Linked DNA regions of Homo sapiens. The protein of the gene in region 4 interacts with the protein of the main gene of each other region in a pairwise test. Each region holds a gene or a part of one and is shown on either strand. Other genes may lie near its edges.

Region 1 (7,169 bases), on a different chromosome or scaffold from region 4:
CCACATACCTCATTGTGAAAAGTGTCAGCCTGGGTCTGGGTCAGCCCAGACCCAGAGCTTTCTACAGGCAGAAACTCACTACTCAACATATCCCTGGCTGCACAGACCCCACCCCAACCCCAGCTGCTAAGGGCTTGTTGGGGTGAATTACAGGTAGGGAGACAGACAGGGGAAAGCTGTGGAAAGAGGAAGAGGAAGGGAACCCACAGGAAGGGAGGTCAGGGCACTTGCTTCGGACCCCAGCAGCCCCAGGGCCCAGTGTGGCCTCCTAGGGGGCACAGATTCCCTTCAGGCGCTGGTGCATCCTCTGATCAAGGAGCAGGGCCAGTGTGGGTGTGTCCCCTCGACACACAGGCATGGGCCCCTCTCTCTCTCCAGACCCTCCCTCACAGCTCAGAAAGCGAACATTTCAGAAACAGCCATCCGATAGGCACCTGGGCCTCTTCTGAATGAAGAACCTGTGACGTCACTGAACGGCTTTGCTTGGGTTTTGTCCCAACTCTTTTTTCCCCACACACCCCGTTCCAGTTTTAAATGAGTGGGCTTATTATACAATACATTGGTCCAGGGTTCAATAAAGTGTCAAAATTGTGACTTTGCCCTTCTCAAGGAACAAGCCCCAAAGCTGCTAGTGGGTGATTCCAGGGACTTCCTCCTCAGGACCCCTCAAAAGCTCCAAGATCCCACGCCCGGGCTACCAGTGAGGAAGTGCAAGTGCAAACAGGTCGAACCACCAGCCTCGGTGTCCTGGCGGGACCTAACACCTGGATGTCTCTCAAAATGCTCCAAAAGCTGCCGACATCCGTGCAACAGCCCCCTCCCACCCTAAGGAAAAAGCTGCCTGTACCCCTCGACTACCCCCATTGGCAGGCTTGCCCAAATCAATTAACCTCATTTAGGTACCTTTTAGGCCTTGAACCCAGTACACAGATGGTCCGGAAAAGCCAACCGGAAGAGAGGTGGCAGGCAGGGGGAGGGGGTGTCCCACAGGGATGATTTACAGAGCAGAGGCCGGCGTCAGCCAGGACTGTCCCAACCCCACAAAGAGCCCCTCCTCGCTGGCACCCTGTGGCACTTTAAAATCATAACAACCACAATGATTCGTGGACCCCATATTATGTTCCAGGGGCTCTTTTTTATCTCAATTAATTTTTGCAACAATCCTGTGAATGGGTATGATTATCCCTTCATTTTACAGATGGGAAAACTGAGGCTCAGAGGATTGAAGTCTTCTGCCCAAGTTCTACATCTGTGAGTGGTCAGAACAACAACTGCAAAGCCCAGTGCTCTGTGCCGGCCTCGGCGCATCTCAGACCACGGTGGCCTCAGGACCTTCTTCTGAAATATCTTTTCATCTCCTGACCCTCCCCTGCCGTCTGTTCTGGGCCCTTTGTGCAGCTGACCACGCAAAGAGCAGGAGAGCAGGACCCACAGACTTCCTTCTGGCTGGGCCAGGCCAATTGTCCCCACCTAATCCAGGGCAGGCTCCTTCTCAGTCACTTCCAAGGTCCCCCCTACAACCAGGAATCCCTGCGGTCTCTCACCTGAACCCTCGCGTTCTCTCCCACACCACAAGACTCAGCAGGTCCGCCCCTTGTCCCCCTGTGCTTTTCTAAAAGAAAGGAACTGCTGATAAGCGAGACCTGGGTGGGTGAAAGAACTCGCTCAGGGTCCCACAGAGCTCAGGCAGAGCCCAGACCTCCCGACCCGAGTCCAGGGCTATATCCAGGCCTGGCTCCACAGGACCACAGGGCCCCACATGCAAATAGGAATAATAAGCGCCAAAACACACAACCCATGCACAAAAACACTCAATAACAAATGCTGGCAAACGTGAAGTGCTATCAAAGTATATAATCATAAATCCAACTGTTACACCTTTCAACAAGAATCTGGGAGCAAGAAAAGTGTTCATGTGTGGATGTGCTTATTTCTCAAATACTATACATTCCTCAACTGCTTACTTTCATTAATAAGACCCAAATTACGGAACAAAGGATAAACAGTCAATCTCACAATCACTACCCCTAGACCACCATACCACAACACCCCCAATTAAAAAAACGGCTACAAGCTTTGATTTCCCAAAACACTTCTATCCTGTGGGAAACTGCCGGGTTCTAAAACATCTCCAAATTAATACTGCCAGTTGTCTTAGTTGGTTTCCTGCTTGCTGATCAAAAACAGGGTTGACATCTGCTTTCTCCAGCAACTACTGACCACACAAATTACCTACTCTAGCTCCACAGCACTTAAGTTACTCCCAAAACGTTACTTCTCATCCTGCATTTTCCTGGCCTTGCCCATAATAAAATTACGTGCAGGAGCAGCTGACGGAGCTCACTAGGCCTAGCACCTCCTAGGCTGCAAGAAAGGTGCAGAGGCCTCGCAGGGGAGAGCTGTAATATGAGAACCGGGATTCCAACCTGGGCTCAGCCTGCCCTGCCGCCCGGCAACTGTATGACCTTGGGCACAGAGGTCAACCTCCCTGAGCCTCAGTTTCCTCAACTGCAGCGCTGGAATCCTAACTCCGGGGGAAAGAAAGGCTCTCATCCCAGTCCCCGGCGCAAAGCTGGGGATGATCGCGCAGAGCCAGGACGCACCCGCGCTGGCCGGCTGGAGCTAGTCCCCGCGGTTCTGGGACTGCGCGGCAGCCCCCAGTGGCCCCTACGCCGCTCGAGATCAGCCAAGCCGGGCCCACACCGGGCCTCGCGGCGCGTCAGGAAAGCCAGGCCCGAGGGATGCTCGCGAGGCCCTCCCGGCCTCCGGGGCCTGTTTCCCCGCCTCCCTCCCCCGAACCACTTCCCGTAGAGGGCCCCGGGGACGTAGCCCGGCCGTCGGTCCTCGGGCCCCGGGGCCGAGCCCCCGCCTCGCCACGCGTCCTCAGCGCCCCGGCGCCGCGCCCCGCCCCGCCTAACCCGAGGCTGCGGCCCCTGCTCCACAGCGGGAGGCTGGAGGCGGCGGCTACTCACCGAGCGGCGCCGCGCGTGGCCGCCTTTGTATTGCAAACACCCAGCCCGCCGCCGGCTGTCAGCGCAGCTCGCCTTCGGGGGCGGGGCAGGGGCGGGGGCAGAGGGCAGGGGCGGGGCAAGCGGGGCGGTGCGAGGGGGACTCGGGACGCGCTGGTGGCCCGGCTGCTTTCAGGGCCTGCTGGCCGGCCCTGCCCGCTCACCCCTGGCCGCCTATCTTAGCGTTCCTGGGGGTGGGGCCCCTTAGGCCGCCTTTCTGATTTTCCTTTCCAGAGCCAAACTCGTGTGTTTCTTCAACACTCTGACTTGACCTATGCCGATGACTGGGGGAGTGAGGACGGAGGGGTGCAGAGAAAAGGCAGCCAGGTAAAAGTCCAGGTAAACCACCCAGGGCCTGGCCGCGATCACGTCGGTCCTATGGGTCCCGCTTATCACCAGTGGCGGGATCTGAGCCCGTCCTTGACTTTACTGACCCTCGCCCTTCGTTTCTTCCACCTTAAAGGCGCAATCGCGTTGACCTATCGCCATCTCTTCTTAGCTTCTCCACGCCGGGCCACCCCTGTCCTTCATCCTGATGGTGACAGCCTCCACTCCCGCCTCTGCCAAGCGGTGGTCCAGGTGCGGAACGGTGGCTCTGAACAGGAGGGACAGGCAGCTCCCTGCGCCTCTCCAGCCGGGAGGCAGGCAGCGGATAAACAATGAGCCACATAACGTCTGGTGGTGAAATGATTTCCATCAATGGGAGGGTGTCATATTTGAACTGAAACTCTAAATGACAAGAAACACCTATGACTACAAAGATGGGGAGGAGGCAGGGCTTTCTGGAGAGCAGAAATGGCAGGTGCAAAGGTCCTGGGGCCGGTGCTGTGGGCTGGAGGGAAGGCAGGGGCCAAATATTCAGGTCTTGTAGGCCAAGGCAAGGAGTTTAGGTATTATTTAAATGTTATTCCAAACCAATTCTTTTTGAGACAGGGTCCCACTCTGTCACCCAAGCTACAGTGCAGTGGCACAATCTCGGTTCACTGCAGCCTTCACCTTCTGGCCTCAGGCAATCCTCCTGCCTCAGCCTCTCAAGTAGCTGGGACCACAGGTGCATGCCACCACGCCCAGCTAATTTTTCAAACTATTTGTAGAGACCAGGTCTCCCTATGTTGCCCAGGCTGGTCTCAAACTGCTGGGCTCAAGCAGTCTTCCCACCTTGGCTTCCCAAAGTGCTGAGATTACAGGTGTGAACCACCACGCCTGGTCCAAAAAGAATTTTAAACCTGGGAATTATATGATCTAATTTACTTCTTTAAAAAGTCACCCCTCCACTCCATGGAAAATGGACTGCAGGAGTAGAAGCCAGCAGACAGGTGGCACTGCAGGAAACCGGGGGACATGATGGTGGCTCAGATTACAGGGGCTACTCAGCAAGAAGCGGAAGGACTTCAGAGAGATTTGGAGGCAAAACCCACAGGCTTACTGATGAATGGAACCGGTGGAGGTGTGTGATGCGATACTCAAAGGCAAGTCTCAGTGTGGAGATGGAACCGCTGCTCTGCTGAGATGCAGAGGGCCAGGGAGGAGGCCAGCTTAGAAACAGCATCGAATGCGGCAGCTTAGTGAATTGGATAAGCCAGCAAGCTTGAGATAGATGTTTGGGGACAGCTGCTTGGAGAGCTTTGTCCAGGGGCGCGGCTCCCGTCCATCTGGTCAAGTGTGGACACGCTCCCGCTGGGCTTGGGGCAGCTCCTATCTAGGCAGCCTGTCCCATGCTGACATTGCAGACGTGGGAGCTACACAAAGAGAATCTTGCAGTTTGTAGGTGAGCTACCTCCACAGGGGTTTTCTCAGAGACCAGAGTTTCAAGTGCATCACGGCTGCCCAAAACTGCTGAGGTTGCAAGGCCCCAGAAGGAAGCCCTCCTGCACCCTCCCCTCCCACCTCCAGGGAGGAGCTGGCCTGGGAAGAAGTCTACTCTATGTGGAAAGGCTTTCCAGGAAGCCAGTCCAACTTCAGGCCACTTAAGTTTATTTTTTGTGTAAAATAAGTCCATTATTCAAATGTGGAGATGGGAGGTCTGAAAATATAGGACAATTCAACTCAAAGCCCTCATTCTGAAAATGATGAGCTGGGGGGCCCAGCACGGCTAGGGTCAGCTCTGATGAGCAGGGTCTGGCTGGATTCAGAGCAAATTAGGTCCCGCTGCTGCCCAGCCTACCACCTCGGGGAAGGCCAAGGGTTGGGGGGAGCCTTTTGTATAAACAAGCAATGAGAAGAAAACACTCACTAGATCACAGTGCACTCCCAGGCGATAAACGAAACCGGACTTTCCAAAGCCCTGGCGCTTTTGATCAGGCACTGGCTGGAGTCCCCCTGGGAGGGCCCTTGGCTGTGCTATCAGCAACCAGGCCTGACTGAGCAGTGACTCAGCCAGGAGAGCTGAGGCGATCCCCCTGGCCAATCCCAGGACCTAGCTGCACTCGGAAGAGGAGAAGGAACTCCAGGGATGAGTAATCTTGCTCTAGCTGACTGGAGGAGGAAGGAGGGGCTGAGTAATGCCTTAGCAAAGCCAGCACAAGCATCCTGATTCTAGAGGCTCAGTTTCACAATCCAGGAAATGGGCTGCAGGTGCACATGACACAGATCTGCTTTGAGGATGAAAAAGGCATCATGGGAAGCTGCTGTCACAGTTGTGGGGTTGGAAGATTTTTCAATTCTAAAACCCCATAAGTTGAGGAGTGGCCATTCCCAGAAGGATCTGTTCACTGCTGAGCCCAGCTGGTGACAGTAGCTGTTGTATCCCGAGAACTCTGAAGTTGTCCAGATCAACCACCTACACAGGCCCAGAATACCTGGGGCAAGGTAGGCGGGAAGAATGAGCATCCCTCTTCACGGGTGCCCTGCGAGCTACTGTAGGAAGGAGAAACACTGGCTGATCCCCCAGGACTCTGAGCATGGTTAGCTCTGTAACTGCCCGGGCAGAAAGGATCCCAAAGAGAGGACAATGAATTCTTCCCCTAGAGGTGCAGACTTTTATCCCTGGCACCAGTGCCTGGGGCTCCGGGGAAGGGAGGGCATCTCCTCGGGGTCTAAGGCCACTCCTTGGTTGGGGGCCCCTCACGAGGTGACTTTGTCCTGCGCACTCTCTTAAGAACCAGGTGGGAACCAGGGGCCACCTGGTGCCGCTTCACTACCTTGGTGGCAGGGAACAGAGCAGCCTGGGAATCCACCCAAGGTGGAATGGGGCCCCCTGGGTGCTGTGGCTGGCTGAGCAGGGAAGTTTCATGGGGAAGAGGCAGGTGTAAAAGGTTCTGGGTTCCGCAGGGAGAGGACAGTGATCCTCGGAGAGCAAACAGCTGGAACCAAAGCACAGAAGGTTTTGACGGTCACCCGGGCTATCCAGAGGCCCACTTCACAGTTAGGGCAGGGCCTGCAGATTAGAGTTGAGGCACAGGAAGTGGCAGAGTGATAAAGGCTGACAGCTGGACACACAGGAGCATCTTGGAGGCCCTAGGCTGAGCACTGGGGGCTACAAAGGGGAGCAGACCAGACACAGTGTCTGTCCTCAGGGAGTGCACAGTCTGGGTTGTGATCGCGTAAAAACTGTCACAGTGCTTCAGGCCGCTGTGAACTGAAGGGCCGTGCACTGATGCAGGATTTGACCTGCCCTGTCCCCAAGCAAGAGGATTCACCTGACCTTGGTGGCCTAAGCAGGCACCGACCTAGGCAAATCTAGGCCAGGTGTCAAGGAGCAGAATGAACCACGGGCCAGCCAGCAGCACATGCACAGCAGTCAGGCACGCACAGGTGCTTGAAAGAAGGCCGTGGCTGGCCGCTGGTGGGCGGGGGAGCTCGGGAGCTCACAGCAAGCCCCATGCCTGTCTCCCACTGGATGAAGCCAGAGGGGGTCTGGAACGCCCTTTCTCCTCTGGTCAGATTGGGAACAATTCATAATGAGCGGGGCTAAGACACAGAACAGCAGAGAGGCAGGAAAGAAGAAAGAGACCAAGGTGCGAGGAGCGGACAGGGAAAGAGACCTCAACATGACCAGGGATGGGAGGAGAGAACTCCATTACTTAGAAACAGTGGCTGCTATGCTGGGAAGTGTGGACTGTTACAGTGGGCTCTAATTCCAGGAGGAACAAAAAGACCCCGCATATCACCATGAGTCAGTCCTCTGAGTCGCCATGACCCATGACCTTGCTAAACAAGTGT
Region 2 (7,112 bases), on a different chromosome or scaffold from region 4:
GAAAACATTTGCAAACCATACATCTGATAAGGAGTCAGTATACAAAATATATAAGGAAGTCAAACAACTCAACCATAAGAAAACAACCCTATTAAAATATGGGCCAAAGATCCGAATAGACATTTCTCAGAAGAAGACATTAAGATGGCAAGTCAGCGTATAAAAAAAAATCCAACCTTACTATTCATGAGATAAATGCAAATTAAAACCGCAGTGGGCTATCATCTCACACCTTTAAGAATGGCTATTATCAAAAAGAGGAAATTTAGTATTGGAGAAGATGTGGAGAAAAGGGAACCCTTGCAGACAGTTGGTGGGAATATAAATTAGTAGAGCCATTAGTGAAAACAGTATGCAGGTTCCTCAAGAAATTAAAAATATAACTCTTATCTGATCTGGTAATCTCACTACTGGCATATATCCAAAGGAAATGACATCAGCATGTCACACATATATCTGCACTCCCATGTCCATTGCAGCATTATTTACAAAAGCCAAGATATGGAATCAACCTAGGTGTCTATCAGCAGATAAATGGAGAAAGAAAATGTAGCATATATGCACAATGAAATTCTAATCAGCCTTACAAAAAGGGAAACCCTGTCATTTGCAACAACATGGATGAACCTGGAGGACATTCTGCTAAGTGAAATAAGCCAGGCACGGAAAGACAAACACTGTATGATTTCACGTATGAAGAATCTAAAAAGTTGAGCTCATAGAAGTAGAAAGTAGAATGGTGTTTATCGGGGGCTAGAGAGGGGGTGTAGTTGGGGAGATATTAGTCAAAGGATACAAAATTTCAATTTAAATAAGAGAAATAAGTTCAAGATATCTATTGTACAATGTGGTGTTTATACTTAATAATATGAATTGTATTCTTGAAAACTGCTGAGAGAGCAGAGTTTACGAGTTCTCACAATAAAAAATGATAAATATGTAAGGTAATGCATATGTTTATTAGTTCAAATTAGTCATTCCACAATGTATGCATATTTCTTAATATGTTGTACATAAGTATACATACTTTTGTCAAATAAAAATAAAATAAAATATTTATTTTGTTAAAAATTTCACTGAAAATAGAAAGAGAACCAATGATTAAAAATGAAATCTCATCTGTGCATGTACATGTACATGCATAGGCACATGTGCATATATATGTGTATATAATGTGTATATATACACATTCACAAATATATATAAAAGTTTGGCTTATCATGTTAGTATATAAGGTTGTTTTGTGCATTAATTACAATTATGACAAATTTAAAAATCTCAGTAAAATATTTGGCACATAGAAACCATCCAACACATTTTTAACATTTTGGGAAAACATACATACACTAGTGTTTTACCTCTGATTGTTTCTGACTGGTGTGATGGGTGATTATTAATCTAATGTTTGCTTGCCTGCATTTTCTAATATTTCTACACATAGCATAACATGGTTAAAAGGGTGATAAACTCTGGAACTGGTCAACCTGGACTTGATCCCAACTGCTCCATGGACTGAAGTAGGGGACAATGAACAGGTTCCTGCCTCTGCCTCACTCCCCATTTGCAAATAGAGCACAAGAGTTATAGCTTCCACACAGGGATGCTGTGAGGATTAGTTGACTTAATACACACAAAATGCTAAGAAGTGCATCTGCCTTACAGGAAGAGAGCAATTGCTGAACTATTACTGCTGTCATTTGGGTACAGTGTATGTGTAAAAAAAATAATTTGAAAAGTGAGACCTTGCCCTCTAAGACCTGTGAGATGACATCACAGCAGGGCCCAGTGGGCAACTGAGAGGCTATTGTGCCCAGCCCTGTGACCGGGGGTCAGCTGCATGGTCTGAAAAAGGGGTGAAGACAGGCAGCCTGTCTGGGAGCTGTGAACAGGGCTCTCTCAGGTGGCACCAGGAAAGACCTCCCAATCCTGTCTGCCTGGGGGAAGGGAAAATAAATTCTCCAGAGGAAAGTCAAGATGACCAAGGGAGATGGTGGTGCCTGTTATGGGCTGAATGTGCCCCCAAAACGAATGGGTTGAAGCCCCAATCCCCAGCGCCTTAGAATTTGACCATATTTGGAGACAAGGTCTTTAACCCATTTATGCCCGAGGTTGCAATTTTTTTTTAATTTGAAAAATCAGACCTTGGCGATGCCCTTGAGCAGTAGGATATAAATAACTCCCGCAAGCTTAGTGATCCAATAACGGAGCACTAGGCATAAATGGGTGAAGCAATTTAGTTAAATGAGGTCACTGGCGGGGAGCCTTAATCCAATATGGCTGATGTTCTCATAAGAGAAAATGAGAATACAGACACACACAGAGGAAGACCATGTGTCAAGACACATGGAGGAGATGGCCTTCTACAAGCCAAGGAGAAAGACCTCAGTAGAAACTAACCCTGCTGGCATCTTGATTTTGCAATTCAGCCTCCAGAACTGAAAGAAAGAAAGTAAATGTCTATTGTTTTAGTTACTGAGTCTGTGGTGCTTTGTTGTGGAAGCCCTAAGAAAGGAATATAGGACGCTGTAAGCATGAAATGTGGAACTTCTTAAAGAGGAGGAGGGCACACAAAAATGGGTAGGAGGACTCAAGACAGGTAAGGATTTAATAATGATTCTTCTGTGTTTGTCAAATAAAATATTATAAAAATGTAACTAATTGTGATGGTGGCAGAAGCCTCACAAGGTTTGATGCCTCTGGTAGCCAGCTGCAGATCCACAGAGAAAGTGCTCAGCTCCCTGATCTTCTGCTCTTGGACAATGTCCAGTCCTTGACCTTCCTTGGCAGTGCTTGTGCTTATCTGAAATTGCTGCAAGTCCAGGGGCAAGGCTAGGTCCAGGAAGCAGGGAGAAAGGGTTCTAGCCCAATGCAATGCTCACCTGTAAGTCCCAGCAGTAGAGTCAGAAGCAGGAAAGGACCAGGAGGATGGGGCCAGGAGGCTGGGACAGGCATTTTGGAGACCTCAGAAGCCTGCTCTGTTCAAACGTCTGTTCTGGGGAGATGTCAGGCCCTGCTCTGAAGACAGAAGACAAGCCCTGCCTCCCTCAATTCAAGAGGAAGTGGCTATGATGGAATGCAACAGTAACCTGCTTCTAGATTGTGACTTACAAATCAGGCACAGTAGGCAGCTACAAAGCAAGGAGTTAATCGTGCTCCATTTTCAGGATAATCAGACAGGGTTAGCAGAAATAATGCTTCCTGCCTGCCTGGGACCTGTGCTCCCTCCTCGTGTCCCCAAACCCATTTTCAGGTCTTCTTGGTGATTTGCCATTTGAGGCTTTTAAGTCAAGAAAGATCTGTTGTTAGGTATTGTTTTCTAAAGTCTTTATTTCAAGACCCTAGGATGTGGTTGGCTTGTGGTCTTGTTCTGCACCAGCCTCAACCAAATGCCACTCCGCTGGACGTAGGAGAAGAGTTCACAGGACCTGCTCAACACTGGAGAGGAACCAGATCTTCTCCTGAAATGATTTTCTATTCCAAATTGCTATAATTGGCAACACTTAGCCCAAATTCAGTCTCTTGTGGACCTTAGCACTTTCATGTGCCTGCACCCAGCAGAAGGAATTATTTCTTGACTCCTTCCAGGAGAGAAACTGGGTTTGAGGTAATAAGCAACTGCTTTGTGGAGTGAGGTGGGGATTGTGGGTTATGGAAAGGGGATAGGGTTATCATGAGGGAAGATTATGGTGGGCAGGTTCCTGGGGCCGTCGCATCAATTTCAATACCCTTTCTTCTACACACAGAGCACCTATTTCATTCATCACTGAGTTCGGATGGGAAATGAGGAAAGAGGAAAAATCCATGCTCCTGCCAAGAGTGTGTGCCAAGGAGTTGGGGAAGTCGCTGGGCCCTCCTATGCTCAGTTTCAATCTCCTAAACTGGGAATAGTAAGTCTTTTTGTGCAGTGTTTTAGTGACGATTAAAGAGGTAATGAGCATATCATGCCTGAAACCCAGTAGGTCATTATTGATACTCACGGTGCCAGGTGAAGTGCGGGAACTCAAATGTTGCTTTTGAATGGATCCCTCCTGCATGCTGAGTTGCCCACCAGTGGCTTTCTCCCAGCAACCCAGGCCTCCTGAGACCCAGCTTATATAGTGTATTTGGACTCTCGCTGCCACCCTGAAATCAGTTTCTCCCTCTGGATTCTCTAAATCCCGCTCCTTGTTCAACCATAGATTAATTCCTCCTCTTACAATTTCCAGCTGTGTGATTTTCAAAAAGACACTACTTCTCTGAGCCTTGGTTTGATTGTATGTAAATAAATGTTAGAATATGCACCTTGTAGAGCTATGGTAGGAATAATATAAGCCATACTGAATGCTTGACTCATAATTAATTATAAGCAAAAAAACATGGCTATAATTATTTTCTGTGTACAGGAAGAGTCCACTGGTTCTCTGCCACCGTTGTGCCTTAGAAAAGCCACCTTGTTAAAAGAAATGATTTCTCTTCCAGCATCTATGACTAAGAAAGACCTGTCCAGAATCCTTCATCTCACATGTGGGTTTTAGGTTCTTAATCTGTCATGAATAATTGTCAAATCAAATTGTAAATGTTATCATGTTTTAATTGAAAGTCCTGTTTTAATGTGGCAGATGTACACAGGGTGAAATCTTCCCCTCCTTCTCCACACCCACAGTAGTGAAAACACAAAATGAAAAGAATATATGAATCAATGTCTAATTACACTTGAATACAAGCAATTGGCTTCTATATGACATGAAGGAATTATAACAGCTATCATTTATTGAGAGTTTCCTGTGCTCCAGATATGGTGCCAAGCATTTTTCTATTGGTAATGTCATTAAATCATTGCTCTGACCCCATGAGGTAAGCTCAACCATTAACCTCCTTTCACAGGTGAGAAAACCCGAGGCACATGGAGAGTAATGAATTTGCTCAAGATCACCCGGCTTTTAGAACTGGAACATAGGCTGCCACACTCCACAGCCTTCACTTTTAATGGTTGTACTATGATACCTCTTGCAGGAAGGGAGAGACATCCCTCAGGAAGAAAGCAGAGAAGAAGCTATAGCCTCAATTAGGAGCAGCCCTCATAGTGAGGCTGGGGCAGGTGCCATGCTCCACGAGGCCCTGACAACCCATGATCACATGGGGAATTATTCCTGGGAAGACGGAAGTGCAAGCAAGAATCACCAAAGATTTGAGGAACAGCACTGCAGCTAACAAATTCAAGAAAAACAATAACTCAAAAACAAATAGCAATCAAAAGAACTTCACACCTGAGCAAATATGAAAAAACAAAATGTGTAAAGTTCTTTAAAGTTAGTATACTTAATGATCTTATAAGGAAAACAAAAGAGAAGTAAATTCATAAACCAACATCAGGCATGTAATAATATGAAACAGAAATAGGCGGGCATGAGGTAACAACAACCATCTTGAAAAAATACCAAAACACAGACTTTGGAAATGAAAACATAATCAGTGCTGAAATTTTTTAAAAAAACTTAATAGGTTGACTAGCTGACTATACATAAATAAGTATAATAGTAAGTTAGTAAGCTGGGTGATTATGTAGGGGAAATTTCCTGTGGTACAGCACAGAGACACACCCAAACAAAGTAATGTGGATAGGTAAAAATATACCACAATATTGTGGTATATCTTTTCCTATTGCTCTATTTTTACCTATCCACATTACTACATTACTTTGAGAGGTGTGAGTCATAAAGTATTATGTCTCCAAAAATAAGAATTGGGCGTATATGACTCAAAAATGCATAGTATAGTGTCAGGAAGATGGCAGAATCTGTGCTTAGAGCAGCAAGTGCCTTCCTGTGAACTTCAATCCTTCAGTAAAGATCAACTAAGTACACAGATGCTTACAATTTTTGTGGAAATCACGTGGAGAATTGAAATTTAAATTTAGGTGACTTGGGGAAGCATAGATAAAATCTGAATGTTTGAGAGGACCAGGAACCTGGGAGTCCATGAGCCAAAATTCTCCTTTATCTGCCATATTTCACCCTGACTCATCACAGCAGGTGCAGATAACCAGGGACGACTTTGGGACACATGAGAAACTGGGAGCCAGTGGATGCTCCAGAAGACTAAAGATGTAAGACTGTGGGCTTAAGAATCAAAACTTCCTGGTCTGAAATCCAGCTCTAATGGGTCCCAGCTGTGTGATCCTGGGGTCACTATTAACTTCCCTGTTTCCTGAGTTTCCCCAAGTGTACAACGGAGAGAATAATCATACCATCTTCATAAGTTTGTGATGAGAATTAAATGAACTAATATATGCAAATTACTTAATACTATCTGACCATGTCCTCCAAAAGTTATATATTCAGTATTACCATTATCATTATAGATAGTAGTTAGATATTATCGTTATTAGGTAGTGTTTTGGTAATAGCAACAATTTTAAAAAACAGATCCTCTGCCCTCAAGAATTTATGATGCTGTGTGACAACCTTGGCCAGTGGCTGGTGGAGGTGGAGTACGACGATGATGAGCTGAGGTCATGTGCCCAGCCCTAGAATCATGGAGTCATTACCAGCACCAGGGGCATGCTATAGGCATGACGTCTGGGGGAATCAATATGACCCCAGTAAGGGTCTACTCAAATGCTCATGGAAAAGCTGTTCCAAATCTTGTCTCATGCTGGGATGGGAGAGAAGAAAATGCTCCCAAATGTAAATCAATAGGAGCAGGTAACATGGGCTGAGAGGGTGAGGAGACACCATGTAGAAATACACTCATGTAGAGCAGGCTGCACTCACTCACCTGTGAGTCCTGGTAGCAGAGGAAGTGGCAGGGGCTGTCCAGATGGGCTGGGAGACAGGGATGGACATTGCCTGCCCTGTCAGACTGTCTCATGGAGAGAATCCAGACTCTACTCTGCAGGAAAGGAGGGCATCTGCTTATCTGCTATGTTGTCTGAGGAGTGAGGTAGCTGTAGGGAGAAAGGGCCATGAGACTGGGACAATCCTCCATTGTGAAAGAGGAAGTGGACACAGTTGCCATCTCTGGGAAGTTGTGGATGTCTGTGCTTGGGGTTCCCAGGCCTGGGTAGATTTAGCCAGTACTGGAGAGAGGTCCACTGCCCCAGAACCTGCTCTCTGTTTCAGAGGCACTCATCT
Region 3 (7,874 bases), on a different chromosome or scaffold from region 4:
ATATATAGATATATATGTGTACATACATATGTACACATGCATATACTGCATACACCAGACACGCATATACTGCGTACACCAGACACGCATATTCTGCGTATGCCGGACACGCGTATACTGCGTACGCCGCACACGCGTATACTGTATACACTAGACATATATGTAAATGCGTTGAGTAAGAACCAGAGGAAAAAAAACCAAACTGATTACATGGGTTGTTACCTCAAGAGAAAACACTAGAATGGCAGAATGGGTGGATTCTCCAGGAGTTTTTCACATGATCTTTGTTGTTTGACTATTTTTAGCATGGGAATAAAATCATATATTACTTGTATAATTAATTAATTTTTTTTTCTTTAGAGACAGGATCTCACTCTGTCACCCAGGCTGGAGTGCAGTGGTGTGATCATAGCTCACTGTAACCTCAAACTCCTGGGCTCAAGTGATCCTCCCACCCTGGCCTCCCAAGTAGCTGGGACTACAGGTATGTGCCACTATACCGGACTAACTTCTTACTTTTTATAGAGAAAAGGTGTCACTATGTTGCCCAGGCTGTTCTCCGACTCTTGGCCTAAAGTGATCCTCCCACCTCTGCCTCTCAAAGTGCTGTGATTACAGGCGTGAGCCACCATGTCCACCCCATGCTTGTATAATTAATTTTTGATAATTTTGATGTATACCAGAATTAAGAACCACTGTTCTATCAGACTTAATATTCTAAGCACCAAAGCTGTTTCACATATTTTTTACAATCTCGCAGGTCATAGTGCAGTGCCTTCTATTAATGGGAGTTTCTGTTTTTAATGAATAAATAGGTGAAAGAAATGCCTCCACTTATACCACCTCTACTGCCATCAGCAGGCCTCATACCAGTACTTCTTCACCACCTGACGGGTTCTAAACAACTCTTGGACTTGATGTGCCATGTCCTTGTCCCAAGCCAACACCATTACACCTGTGGTTTCCTTGTCCAGCCGGTGGCACAGATGCAAGGGCTCTGCCTTGTGGCCATGAAGCATCTTTGCCAGGATAGGTAGTACATCAGTGATGCAGAGCTGGACCCCAGGGCCACCTAAGAAGGAAAAAGCCAAAGGTTTGAGCGGCCAGGAAAAGATCTCGCCAAAGAACTCTCCTTGGGAGAAAAGCCCTTAATGGATAAACTGTCAATATTTTCTAGAGCCTTACTACTGAAGTGTGGTCCAGAGACTAGCAACAATGGCATGTCTAGGGAGCTTATTAGAAGTGAATCTCAGGCTCTCAACCTAGACTACTCAGTCAGAATCTGCATTTTACAAGCTGCCCAAGTGATTCAGAAGCATATTAAAGTTTGAGAAACACCATTCTAGAGCATGTGGCTTCCTCTCAGACATACTTTGAAAAACCATGAGGCCTTCGAGAAGCATTAAATAAGAGTGATTAGGAGGATAGACTTCGGGGTTAGACATTCCTGGGGTTCTACTCTACTCTTCTTACTAGCCATTTTTTTGACCTTGGACACATTACTTCTCTTTCCAACTTTGCTTTCTCGTTATAAAATGTAAATATCTGGAAAACAACTTCATTGGGGAATGGAAAGGCAAAAAACTGTTGCGAAAATAAAGAGAGAAAAAAATTATACAAACACTTGGTGATGTGATTTAATTCCTTGTCTTTGTGAACAACTATCTCCGTATCTCCCCAAAAAGCATTACCTTCTTCTAGCTAAAATGGGCCTTTTCCCTCTTTCACAAATGCATTTTTTAAATCAATCTTTCCTGATTCACTTCAGCTGTCCCTGACAACTACATGCAACATCTGTTGAAAGACATTTGAAGGTCCACTAAATTCCAGTCACTCTGGGGTTGTATGTTACATATACTCCAACATACATACACACACACACACACACACACACACACACCCCCTTTTTTCTTATGTATCATTTTCTCATTCCCAGTTCTGATGGAAGATAACCTTTAGTCTAGAACCACACAGCCTTTGTATATCTCTACAGCGATCCCTGTAGTCTGCACACAGCGTATTCTACGAATTGCTTACTGTCAGATGTTTAGAAAGGGAGGACTGTCTTATTTATTTATTTCTGTGTTCTCGGTGGTTCCTTATATTGGACGGTAGTTTACAAAAGTTTAATTAATTTGAATGCAAGGCTTTAGAGTGCACCACAAGTAACGTCTCAGTTTTCCTCGGTTGTAGCAGAAAGCAGCTGCAGGTTCCTCCACCTTTCCCGCGTGGTCCTTACCATGCACAGGGAGACCGTAGGGCTTATTGATGACCACAAGGTTCTTGTCCTGGTGGAGAATTCCTCGGGTCAGTGCCTTAGCAAGCACGTTGGGGTGGACTCGCTGCAGCTGCCGTGTGAACCGCACTATTTCTTGCACTCTCCGCTGAACAGCGTTTGTGGACACCTAGGGAGAAAGAAGGAGCCGTGGGGAATGCCTGGTGCGGAAGCCGTGGAGAAGACCTTCCATAAAGGTCTGGGTGAGAATCTGAGTAGGGAATGACTATCTTTGCATCAGACCCGCGCCGCCTTCGACTAATTTGAGAGCAGAGATACCCATCTGTCTAACCTGCGTACCGACGCAGTGGTTAGGACTGAGCCTGACAGTAGCCAAAGATCCAGCTCACGGGAAAACACCGTACCCTTACTGACCCCTCCCCTCCGCCTTCTCCCCATTCTCCCACCTTGCGTCCGGGCTATTGACTCACACGCTTTCACTCAGAGGACCCTCCTACCTACTCCCCGTCTGGGAAACCAATGAGCGCACTGCCTCTAGGGAGTTCTGGTCCCTTTGGACTCACCGGCTCCTTCTTTGTGTCTTGTTCCCGTTTCTGGGCTCGGAGCTTCTCCGCTAATCTCTGGGCATTTATGGCCGTAGAGGCAGCGGCAGCGGCACAAAATGGCTTTGAGACGAGAGTGAAGAGACTCCCGCAACCTTGGCCGTTTCCCCGGATCCAGGGGCCCGACGCGCTCCACCTGGGCGCCGCCATCTTACAAGGAAGGGCGGGGCGAGCCAAGACCACGTGGAGAAGGGCGACTACAATGAGGCGGGAGTGGGTGGGCCCTGCAGGTCACGTGGTGCGGGGTGGGGCCTGGGCGAGTCACGTGGGGACGGTGCGCGCTCAGTGCGGCTGCGCCGGCCGGTAGCTGCAGCTGGAGCAGTGGCGTTTGGAGGAGACTCGGTGAGTGTGTAGGGAAGCCGGGCTGGGGCTGGGAAATGCCGGTGCCTCAACGGTTTAACGTTTTCTGCGTCCCCGGGATTTCCGTTCAAGAAGAGCACTGGTCTGAGAAACGTTTCTCCTTTTGGTACACGATCCCACTCAAAAACTCCTCCCCGCCCCCGCGCCCCCTTAGGAGCGATGTCCCATAAACGCTCGCCCCAGAGCCCTCCTAGGCACCGACGCCGTCCCTCTTAGCCACTGAATCTCCGGTGATCCGCCAGTCCCCTGCGGGACGCGTCGGGGACCCTCTTGATCGGATGCCCGGATCTCTGTAGTCTCTCCACCCTTCATCTTCCAACTCCCAGCCTCTTTGTTTCGCGTTGTAACCTGTACCCTTCTCCTAAGGATGACGGCCCCTTCCCTTATCCAGGGCCCCCAGCACCTATTTCCTACTTAGGAAGCACTGTGAGTGTTTTTTCTGCCCTTCCTCAAGAATTCATTTCTTGGGGGTCTCCTCCCTACCTTCCCTACTCCTCCTAAAGAAAAAGCTGAAAGAACGGAGCACAGACCTTCACTTTTCCTGTTTCCTTTATTTTTCCTCTCCATAGTTTGCAACCACACCATACCTCCTCTCACGAGATGCGATGTTGGGATTCCCTTGCCCGAACTGCAGGCGACTCCCTCTGATTTCACTCAGGGGTGGCTGGGAAGATAAACATCTGTTTGGGATGGTAGTGTTAAAAATAACTTGGGATATACCTGCCATTTGTTAAGAGGAAAGCTTATGCTGAGTTCAGAAAGAATGTCCTGAAAACTAATGGATCTGTGACGATAGAAGGAACAATTTTTTAAGACTGCTTGGAATGAAGGCTGCCTGAGGAGTTATTAGAGAATAGGTAGTTGAATTAGATTTGGGTTCTACACCTCCTAAAGGGTTTGGCAGAAGGGAGCCGTACCAACAAGAAACAAAGTTGATCAGGTGGAGCTACTCATAGAAGACTCAAGTTGAAGAGTTTGAACTAGAGGTGATACGTAGTGAGGAGTCTTTGAAGCTTTTCGAGTAGGGCAGAGAGACTCCTTGAAAGTGGAATTCTGGAAATGAATCTGGCAGTTGAATGCAGGACAGATGGGGAAGGAAAGGGTTTGATAGTGGGGAAGGAAAGGGTTTGATAGTAGGAAAACTAGTTACAATCTAGGTGGTCAGTGATGAGGTCTGGTCTTTTCCCCCTACACTGTAACTCCTTTGAGTTTGAATTAATTGAGTTATGCAGGTCAAGGCGTACTCTTGGCAGCTGCTGTTGATCTGTGAGTCCCTGGAAGAATTTTTTTTTTTAATCCACTCACCTGGCACATAGTAAACTCGATATCTGTTAGATGGCTGAAGTGCATCATAAATGTATGCTAGGTGTGTCTGAACATTTTGAATTGTCTTATTTCTGTCAATGTTTGGCCTGAAGAATGAAGGTAGAGGAAGATGTATTTGTAAAGTGGGAAAGAAGCAAGGCTTGTGTACGTTTCTCTTATAAGGCAGGTGTAAATGCAGATCCAGATACAAATGCAAAGATTTCCAAGGGAGATTGGGAAACATCTGTTTCTCCTGTTCCCCACCCACCCCCTGCAAATTTACCAGTAAGACAGAGGTCTATAAAAGTTGAGAAATTCCACCCTAAAAGAATTATTACCTTCCATGCTCCAGACCTAGGTTCTAATTTCACTTGAACATCACATATTACTTAGATACTTGAAGCTCAATTTTCCAAGGACCCTGAAGTTTTGACATCGGGACTTAAATTCATATCATTACATTAATTAAAAACTTGTTTTGGGTACAGGACTTTTATGGTTTTGTGTCGGGGATGGGAGAGGCTGTTTCTACCCTAACCTTATGGCATTCAAGAAACTACACCTGTTCTTGCAGAGTTGGCCTTCTGTGGCGGGAAACAAAATGAAGAACCAACTCAAATGTCATTGCTAGTGACACAGAGCTTATGCTCTAGGGTTTCAGGTTAACTCAAAGCACACACTTAGTGACTTAAGAATAAAAATATTGGTCCCTTTTTTCTGGAGAAGGAACTTTTAGGTTTGTCTTGTTGAAACTTTGTAGAGAAATTTAAAGAATTCAAAGTTTTTGTTTGGTATGACAGTGCAGCTTTAGCCAGTATGGGTACATAAGTTATGACATCCTTAATGTTTCTCCGGTGAGTCTAGGCACTTGGTGATTTAAAGTAGAGTTGTTCTCAGTATAAAGAATTTATGTGGCCGGGCGCGGTGGCCCACGCCTGTAATCCCAGCACTTTGGGAGGCTGAGGCGGGCAGATCACGAGGTCAGGAGATCGAGACCATCCTGGCTAACATGGTGAAACCCCCGTCTCTACTAAAAATACAAAAAAAAAATTAGCCAGGCGCGGTGGCAGGCGCCTGTAATCCCAGCTACTCGGGAGGCTGAGGCGGGAGAATGGCGTGAACCCGGGAGGCGGAGCTTGCAGTGAGCCGAGATCGCATCACTGCACTCCAGTCTGGGCAACACAGCAAGACTCCATCTCAAAAAAAAAAAAAAGAATTTATGCAAATGTCATGTCTTTTTTTTTTTTTTTTTTCCAATTTTCAAAGAGCAATAATCACCCCTCAGATAAACCTCATTGGCTGCAATACTGCCACTGCAAAAAACTCTTTTGTTTCTGTTTTTTTTTTTTGTTTTTTTTTTGTTTTTTTTTTTTTACCTCTATATTGCCTCCTCCCTGTTCCTCATTCAGCTGGTCCTTTTTTAGGCAGTTCACTTTTCCACTTCTGCGCCAATGTCACAGTCCATTTGTTGGGAACTCCTCTTGTCTAAATGTTTTCTTAGAACAAGGAAGGAAATTCTATTAGTGATTTCTTCATTCTTGCAGACTACGGCTCTGTTCAAACATGACTTATTTACATTGATTTTGATATATCATAATATGTGCCCCTAAAGTAACCATATAAAGAAGAACTTGATAGTTTCTTTTTAAAGATATTTCCTAGTCTATTCAGGAACAAAAAGGCTGCATTAGTATTTCGCAAATATAAACAAACAAGGACTAACTAATAAAGGAACTTGCGTTTATCACAAATTTAAGGTTAATTAGTGGTATAAAGTTAAGTTACGCCTCCTCAAACTGTGATTTGCTAGTTGCAGATTAACCAGCGATTCCATTTCCTTGAAGAGCAGGAAGTACTTGGACATTGTTTTATGGTTTTAGAGAGATTAAAGGAGGCAATTAGCAGGAACTCTTGGGAGGTGCCCTGGAAAGTACAGTCATTGGGAGCCAGGAGATGTGGGACTAGTTCCAGTTCAGCCGCTGCGTACTTGAACAAATAATTTGGGCTTCAGTTTTTTGTCATTTGAAAGATTTTTGCAACTCTGTTTCTAGTCTATGAAGATTTTCCACTGATACTGAAATACTTCTCTTTCAGCCCGAATTAGTGGGATTTATTTCAGATTTATCTTGAATACATTTAGCATTGATACTAAGAAACTGGATTCTGCTCTTGTCCCCAGAATTTAACTTTTTGCCACTGAGCTAATGTTTATGTTTGGAGGTTACTTCATTGAGTGGTGTTGGAATATACTTTTAAGATTTCTGGCCAGGCGCGGTGGCTTACGCCTGTAACCCTAGCACTTTGGGAGGCCGAGGTGGGCGGATCACGAGATCAGGAGATGGAGAGCATCCTGGCTAACACGGTGAAACCCTGTCTCTACTAAAAATACAAAAATTAGCTGGGCGTGGTGGCAGGCACCTGTAGTCCCAGCTACTCGGGAGGCTGAGGCAGGAGAGTGGCGTGAACCCAGGAGGCAGAGCTTGCAGTGAGCCAAGATCGCGCCACTGCATTCCAGCCTGGGTGAAAGTATGAGACTCCGTCTCAAAAAAAAAAAAAAAAAAAATGTCCTAAATGGGGGTGGGGTGCATGGCTCACACCTTAATCCCAGCACTTTGGGAGGCCTAGCGGGGAGGATCTTTTGAGCCTAGGAGTTTGAGATCGCCTGGGCAACATAGCAAGACCTCGTCTCTACAGAAAATCACAAAATTAGCTGGGCATGGTGACGCACCTATGGTCCTAACTAACCCTTGAGGCTGAGGTGGGAGGATCATTTGAGCCCGGGAATTCAAGGCTGCAGCTGCAGTGAACCATGATTGCAGTACTGCACTCCAGCCTGGGTGACAGAGACAGACCCATCTCAAAAAAGAAAAAGTAATTTGTGTAATACAGTTTAAAAGTCAAATAGTAATAAAAGATTTGGAATTAAAAAACAGTTTCTCAGGCCAGGTCCAGTGGCTCATACCTGTAATCCCAGCACTTTGGGAGGCTGAGGCAGGTGGATTGCCTGAGGTCAGGAGTTCAAGACCAGCCTGGCCAACATGGTGAAACCCAATCTCTACTAAAAATACTAAAATTAGCTGAGCATGGTGGTGTGTGCCTGTAATCCCAGCTACTTGGGAGGCTGAGGTAGGAGAATCGCTGGAACTGGAGAGATGGAGGTTGCGGTGAGTCGAGGTCGCACCATTGCACTCCAGCCTAGGTGACAGAGCGAGACTCTGTCACCAAAAAAAAACCCAACAAAACAAAAACCGTTTCTCTGCCCTCCCTACCTCAAAGTCCCATTCTTTAGAGGCAACCACTCAGTTGTTTTCCTCTTTTCCTCTGTCTTTACAGTAAGTGGTCAACACCATCAGTATTCTTGAAACATGATA
Region 4 (7,023 bases):
AAAAAACAAAAAATTAAAAATTACCCAAATTCCTTATTAGAAAAAGAGACAATTACCTGGTTCTACTTAGGATCTGTGTATGTTCTAAGTCTTTCTCTCCTTTAGAAAAAAAGAGATAATCTGATTCTATTTTGGATCTGTGTACATTCTAAGTCTTTCTCTCATTTAGAGAAAAACATTCTCAAGTCTATAGAAGAGGAAAAAAAATTAAGATTAGGACCAACATTTCAAGCTGCCTTTTGGAAAGAAAATTAAAAACAGAGGTAGATGGTTAATTATTAGTGGCCAAGTTACTCAGGTGACTAATTTTTTCTTGGTACACATTCACCAAAATTTTATACTTGAAGCCAAATAGTAAATAACTTTAGGAGTAGAGAGTAATACCTAGCAGAAGTTATTTTCTTTATGTCAAAGAAAAGTAATAGAAGCAAACCAGGCTTACGACCCCTGTTAAGGAGATGATTGTTTAAAGCACTACAGTTCATGCACTTTTTAAAGCAGGAGAATGAACCTTGCCCCTAAGCTTCTTAGGTGTATCTGAGGCCAGCCACAAGCTCCATCAGGCCTGTTCAGTCCAAGTAGGACTGTAAGGTGCCTCGGCGCCGGACATCGCAGGTCCAGCAATGGAAGCCTCCTCCCAGGGAATTGGCATTACGAATGTTAACTTTAATGGTAGTGATACCTGCATTGAAAGAGAGATGAGGTCAGTTAGATGGACTAACATGACGATTCTCATAGAGAAAGTAGGCCTACAGACTTGGAGGAGTCCTGTGGTTCTAATCCTTAAGGATACCCAACCCAGAATAGTATTTTCTCTTCCAATTTTATTTTCACCAACTATATTTCATCTGCTAATATAAAATCTTCTCCAAAAAGTCAACAGAGAACTCTGAAGTTTTGTTCTATTGACTATTCACAAGTCAATAGACTGAGCAGATGTACCTACCAAATGTTCAAAATGGTCAAGTACTAAAATCTCAAGGCCTTTTAGAATTATACATTAACTACTTTGTCAGACTGTTTCTAATTTTACCATGTTAATTTAGTAGGCAAAGCAAAATTTAGCTGACCTAAAAAGCTGACTTTACATATTCACATATAAGGAGAGTTTATCTGATACAGATTAACTTCACCAGGCCACCATAAGGAAACAATGGAACAGAGCTGGTGTTTTAATATCTGGGTTTGTATGGTTATACAGGTACCAAAGCAAATCCAACAATCAGTTTAATCTGGTACCATCTGTAATGACAAGGCTATGATGTGCATGGCCTATTTAACCAATGGTATTTAGGAAGAATCTGTTGTGTTAGATATAGTGGGGTTTTAAAAAGAAAATCTATTATTCTTCCTCAAGGAGCTAATTATTTTGAGAGGAGGATAGGCTACAAAGTCACTAAAGGGTCCATTGGTATAGCCAGGGAGAGGAAGGTGGCATGAGCCATTCAGAAAGACTTTCCTAGTCGCGCATGGTAGCTCACACCCATAATCCCAATGCTATGGGAGGCATAGGTGGATGGATCACTTGAGGTCAGGAGTTCGAGACCAGCCTGGCCAAGCCCCTCTCTACTAAAAATACAAAATTAGCCAGGCATGGTGGTGTATGCTTGTAATCCCAGCTACTCAGGAGGCTGCGGCAGGAGAATCGCTTGAACCCAGAAAGTGTAGGTTGCAGTGAGCCGAGGTCACGCCACTACACTACAGCCTGGGCGACACAGCTCTGTCTCAAAATACACACACACACCCCTTTATAATAGCTCATATGAAAATCCTTTCCCTTCAACATTTTTCTCAATAATACTAGAATCATTGGTCTAAATTTTGAATATCAGGATAAGTAAACTACTTAAGTAAAACCTGGTCCTGCTCTTCAGTTCAAAACTGAATGATTTACTGACACACTTTCTTGCATTTCGCTACTTTGTTAACTATGCTTATCACACATAAAAGTCACTTCTGCATCCGTACCCTTTTGAGTCCTTTGAAATATGTGATGACAGGACACTTTTAAAGGACCCACAATGATTTCTTATTTGAAGAAGGGCTGAACAAGCTATCTGCTCACCTGCAAAGGGGTGGTTTTCTGCACATGGGCACCAAAACGTTGGCTAAGTCATATAAGATTTATAAACTTATTGTTAAGGGGATGTCTCAGGAGCTCAGGATGCATCTCCAACTTGTTGGGGCTACGTGTGTTGAAAATAAAAATACTGACTTTCTGTGAAATAATAACTTGGTGCCTCTAAAAGGAATCAAAATTGAATTAGACAAACCATTTATCAAACCTAGCATGTCATTTCTTTAGTTCTTCTCATTTAACGTTTTCATGTATGACAACATGTTTCATTTGTTGTACATACCCAGCTTTTCAAACATCTTTTGAATTGGAACTTCATTGGCATCCACCATAACACGTTTTTCATCTAGCATTAAGACATTCATGGAAAGCCATTTGGATGACATCCAGAGTGGATGATCTAAAAACAGCAACAACTGTTAAACCATGTCCGCTATCATTTTTGTTTAAAGCAAGGATTTACAAGTGAAGAATATTAAAGTGACAGCTCAGTTCTTTCAGTAGTTCACTTTCCATGTGAACATTTATTTTAATCTTAAAACAATTTATCTATAAATGGTATGAATCAATCTGTACTCATTATACATTTGAATTTCACCCTGTTTTCTTTTAAAAGTCATATCTTGGCTGGGCATGGTATAATCCTAGCACTTTGGGAGGCTGAGGCAGGAGGATTCCTTGAGCCTAGGAGTTTGAGACTATTGCCCAGAGATGGTGCCTCACTGGGGAACACAGCAAGACATCATCTCTACAAATAAAAAAAAATAACTTGCTGGGCATAGTGGCCTGCATTTGTAGTCCCAGCTACTTAGGAAGCTGGAGTGGAAAGATCACTTGAGCCCAGGAGTCTTGAGGCTGCAGTGAGCTGTGACTGCACAACTGCACTCAAGCCTGGGTGACAAAGCAAGACACTGTCTCAAAAAAAAAAAAAAAGTCATATCTTGCTTTACGTGATGTTGTTTTATTCTGTCTTCTCCTTACTTCATTTTCTATGGATGAAAAAGTTGCAAACACAAGTCCCAGCCTTGTTCTGATGCTCACAGTCCCAAGCACCACTTCACACCTTACTGAGGAAACACATTCTCTAAGCTGCTAACATTTGGGCTGCTCTCTATAGGAGAAAGATCCTTGGTCACTAAAGTAATTATTTTAGTCTAACAGTGTATGAAAGTAAACATACCGTCTGGGATGATTGGTGTTGGAGGAGTAATGATAGTCCATCCTGCTTTCTTGAAAAGATCAATCTGTAAGACCAAAAAAAACCCCCAAAACCGTTAAATCTACATATACTATTATTATTATTAGTCTCTAATAGCCCTTATCAGTAATAATTCTCTTTGAGAAGCTGTCTTCTCAGCTTCCAAAAGAAAGAAATTAAAATTTCTAAACATTTGGGTGATTTTGTCTGAATCCTAATTAAAAATGTACATAAAATCCCCAGATTAAAGTTAAAAAGTAACAGAAATGTTACAGCTTTTAAAGATAGTCTTAACTTTTCTCAGGTTTCAGAGACTTAAAAAACCAAAGATACTGTCCTTAAGAAATTCTCATTTTAAAAATTGAAAAATTTCCTATTTAGTTACAAGAAAACAAAAATGTGACTACATCAAACCCACAGTCCTTCTACTTCTTGCCCATCATTTTGTATCTAGGACCATGGTATAAAGACAGTTGTTAGCTATGCATTCTCAAAGAACCATATTGTCCTTAGTGACCTTTTACAACTTAGCCGTCCCTGTGTTCACATACCCACTTACTATACGAATAAATGATAATAAAATGAAATGAATAAGTAGTCATGGTCATCGGGTTTAAAAATAAAAAACAGAAATGAACAGTGACACAGTATAACAGTGGTTTTTAAAAGTTGTACTGCAGCCTTGCAAGTAACAGAAAATCACTCATCACCTAACTGGAAGTAGGAGGCTATGGACAGAAAGTAGGAGGCTGCAGGTGAAGGGGATAGACCAGCTGCAGTGCAGTGGCTTCACTTTTCCCTACAGAGCAGGGTTGGCCAAAGGGAGGCTACCCCACTGTAGAGGGAATACAACCACTGCCCAGTGGCATTGCCCTGGCCATGCAAGGATGATCTTGTCCAAAATTCGCTGCTGTGGAACCACTGTTGCAAGTTATAACACCATCGTTTGATAAAAATACACACATATGCACAAACTTGAGGCTCTGACAACAGCAAGTGGCCAAAGTCTGATGATCCCATACTAATTATTGTGTCAACTATGTATATTTCTGCATGGTGGACATCTTGTAATAAGCCATAAGGAATCCAATGTTTGATCATAATAATGTTGAGTACTGCTGAATCTGTCATTTAGAACCATTAGGAACCATGGAAGTGCTTAAAATAAAAGTGGCAATTATTTTAGTTACTAGATTCTGTTGCTTTTCCAGAGTCCCAAGAAATCTCTTACCTGGTGACATGGTCGGTCAGGGTTGGAAAGCACAATACCAGGTCCAATGATGTTGAAGGTAGCATCAATATGCATGGGATTGGGATCTTTAAAGGAGATGATATGCACTCTGTAGTCTGGAGCAAGATGCCTACGCATCCATTCAATGCCTAGGTAGTTTGTAACCTGAAAACAAAAGAAAGACATACGATCGATAAATATTTGGTTCTATGTCTAGAAAACTAAAAATATTCAAGGTGAAAAAAATTTAGGATGAAAATATTTTAATTTGGAAGTAAAGAATACAATAATATAGTGTGAAATTTCAGAGGCAGCCTGCGTTCACCTGGCTTCTCTGTGCAAAAATATCTCTTCCAGCTCGAATGAAGTCAGCAGCATCAAAGCATGGCTCAAACTCAGTTGTCACAAATTTTCCCTGAGCAGCCAATTTGTGTCTGTCTTCTACAGAGTGGATGGGATAATCCTAATTGGAACAAGAATGAACACACACAATGCACTGGATCATGAGAAAATTATTCATAAGGCATACAGTACTAAGAAAATTAGTTTAACATCATTTCCCAAAATATTACTACTCAGTTCTAGACTAAAACATGCCTGGGAAAGAAGCGGGTCCATGATAAATAAACCAAAACAACAATAAAACAAGAAACTAGCATTATAGTAATTTCCTGATACAACAGTCCTCCTTTACCCATGATTTCACTTTCCATGGTTTCAGTTACCTTCAGTCAACTGTCGTCCCAAAACATTAAGATATTTTGAGAGAAACAGAGAGACCACATTCACCTAACTTTTAGTAAAGTATATTTATATAATTGTTCCATTTTATTATTCATTATTGTTGTTAGGCTCTTACTGTGCCTAATTTGTAAATTAAACTTTATCATAGGTATGTATATATGTACAGGAAAAAACAAAATATATAGAGTTCAGTATCAGCATCCACTGAGAGTCTGGAACATATCCCCTGAGGATGAAGGGGCACTATGTACTTAGAAAAAAATGGTACACACCAGGTGAGATGGCTCATGCCTGTAATCCCAGCACTTTGGGAGGCCAAGGCAGGTGGATCACCTGAGGTCAGGAGTTCGAGACCAGCCTGGCCAACATGGTGAAACCCCGTTTCTACTAAAAATACAAAAATTCGTCAGGCATGGTGGCATGCACCTGTAATCCCAGCTACCCAGGAGGCTGAGGCAGGAGAATTGCTGGAACCCGGGAGGCAGAGGCTGCAGTGAGCCGAGATCACGCCACTGCACTCCAGTCTGGGTGACAGAGCAAGACTCCATCTCAAAAAAAAAAAAAAAGTGATACAGAGGCAGTAACTGATTCTGAGAATATTCCATGAACCGTACGGAAAGTAAACAGGATGAAGTCATTCTGTTCTTTTAGAAAAGGAATTTGGTCCCGAGCTTAACTCATACCATAAAACGAGATGCCATGTTTCCCCTGCCAAATTTGATTGGGAGTGGCAAAACTAATTCATTATTTATTTCTGTCTTTAAACCCAGAAGCTATTTTGATTTTTAAATTTTTTTCTATAAAAGATCAAATGGTAACTGATTTAATAAGGGACATACATTTCATTTTACTGTGAATTTGAACTGTAGATCAGGTTCTTTTTCTAGAAGAAGAAAGTGAACTTCAGTCTAGTGACTTTTCTGGTTCCACTAATGAACAGTGGTACACCTGTAGGCAAGTTTTTCCCCATCTAATGGAATGATACTACAGTATGATTAGGGTTGTTGTGAAAAACAAACAGGATTGAGGATGTAAATAAAGGGTTTAACCCAGGACCCAGAACAAGGTAAGCACCAAAAAGTGTTAGCCATTATTATTATTATCATAGGATCATTTACTCTTATCATATTCATCATAAAATAATCACTTTTTAAAAATAAGATGATGTTTTCGGTTTCTAAAATGCATAATATATACAAGGTATCAGAGAATCTCTATCTTACTCTTTGTGGATCATTTAGAAAAGTTAGTAATAAGCTAGCCTATAATTAGGGACTCACCTGGTTATAAAGCTCATCAGCCATTGTGGGCTTAGGAGCTGTTGTCCACTTGGCGCCACGGTGGAAGTAGTCTTTGATAATTGACCTGTACGCTCGGTACTCAAAGAAGCGTGAACGCCATGCCATGGGAGCCTCGATAATCTCATTGCCCACAACTATCAGGATGTCTCGAGGCATTGCACTGTATAAACCTGTCAGACCAAAAAATTCCATGACAACTTCAGTAGTGTTAATTTCCAAGACAAAAAAGGTCTATATAGGGCCAGGCACAGTGGCTCATGCCTGTAATCCCACCACTTTGGGAGGCCAAGACGGGCGGATCACTTGATCCTCTTCAAGAGCAGCCTGGCCAACATGGTCAAGCCCCATCTCTACTAAAAGAATACGAAAACAATTAGCCAGGCATGGTGGCACGTGCCTGTAATCCTAGCTACTCGGGAGACTGAGGCAGGAGAATCACTTGAACCAAGAGGCAAAGGCTGCAGTGAGCCGA

The links.
Region 1: the proteins of GATM (region 4) and LPIN1 interact in binary tests that used the Homo sapiens proteins (3 or more experiments, as listed by UniProt).
Region 2: the proteins of GATM (region 4) and SIRPG interact in binary tests that used the Homo sapiens proteins (3 or more experiments, as listed by UniProt).
Region 3: the proteins of GATM (region 4) and RPUSD4 interact in binary tests that used the Homo sapiens proteins (3 or more experiments, as listed by UniProt).

Annotation. Positions count from the first base shown.
Region 1 is NC_000002.12:11,742,475-11,749,643, reverse strand, and holds the start of LPIN1 (phosphatidate phosphatase LPIN1), read right to left. Parts: upstream 3,013-7,169; 5' UTR 2,973-3,012; intron 1,112-2,972; exon of another isoform or gene 904-1,111; intron 1-903. UniProt on the Homo sapiens protein: Acts as a magnesium-dependent phosphatidate phosphatase enzyme which catalyzes the conversion of phosphatidic acid to diacylglycerol during triglyceride, phosphatidylcholine and phosphatidylethanolamine biosynthesis and therefore controls the metabolism of fatty acids at different levels.
Region 2 is NC_000020.11:1,654,763-1,661,874, forward strand, and holds the start of SIRPG (signal-regulatory protein gamma isoform 1 precursor), read right to left. Parts: upstream 3,018-7,112; 5' UTR 2,953-3,017; coding exon 2,880-2,952; intron 1-2,879. UniProt on the Homo sapiens protein: Probable immunoglobulin-like cell surface receptor. On binding with CD47, mediates cell-cell adhesion. Engagement on T-cells by CD47 on antigen-presenting cells results in enhanced antigen-specific T-cell proliferation and costimulates T-cell activation.
Region 3 is NC_000011.10:126,208,651-126,216,524, forward strand, and holds the start of RPUSD4 (pseudouridylate synthase RPUSD4, mitochondrial), read right to left. Parts: upstream 3,001-7,874; 5' UTR 2,989-3,000; coding exon 2,800-2,988; intron 2,406-2,799; coding exon 2,240-2,405; intron 1,073-2,239; coding exon 871-1,072; exon of another isoform or gene 844-870; intron 1-843. UniProt on the Homo sapiens protein: Catalyzes uridine to pseudouridine isomerization (pseudouridylation) of different mitochondrial RNA substrates. Acts on position 1397 in 16S mitochondrial ribosomal RNA (16S mt-rRNA).
Region 4 is NC_000015.10:45,361,540-45,368,562, forward strand, and holds part of GATM (glycine amidinotransferase, mitochondrial isoform 1 precursor), read right to left. Parts: intron 6,722-7,023; coding exon 6,531-6,721; intron 4,970-6,530; coding exon 4,832-4,969; intron 4,672-4,831; coding exon 4,507-4,671; intron 3,322-4,506; coding exon 3,258-3,321; intron 2,478-3,257; coding exon 2,361-2,477; intron 683-2,360; coding exon 570-682; 3' UTR 1-569. UniProt on the Homo sapiens protein: Transamidinase that catalyzes the transfer of the amidino group of L-arginine onto the amino moiety of acceptor metabolites such as glycine, beta-alanine, gamma-aminobutyric acid (GABA) and taurine yielding the corresponding guanidine derivatives.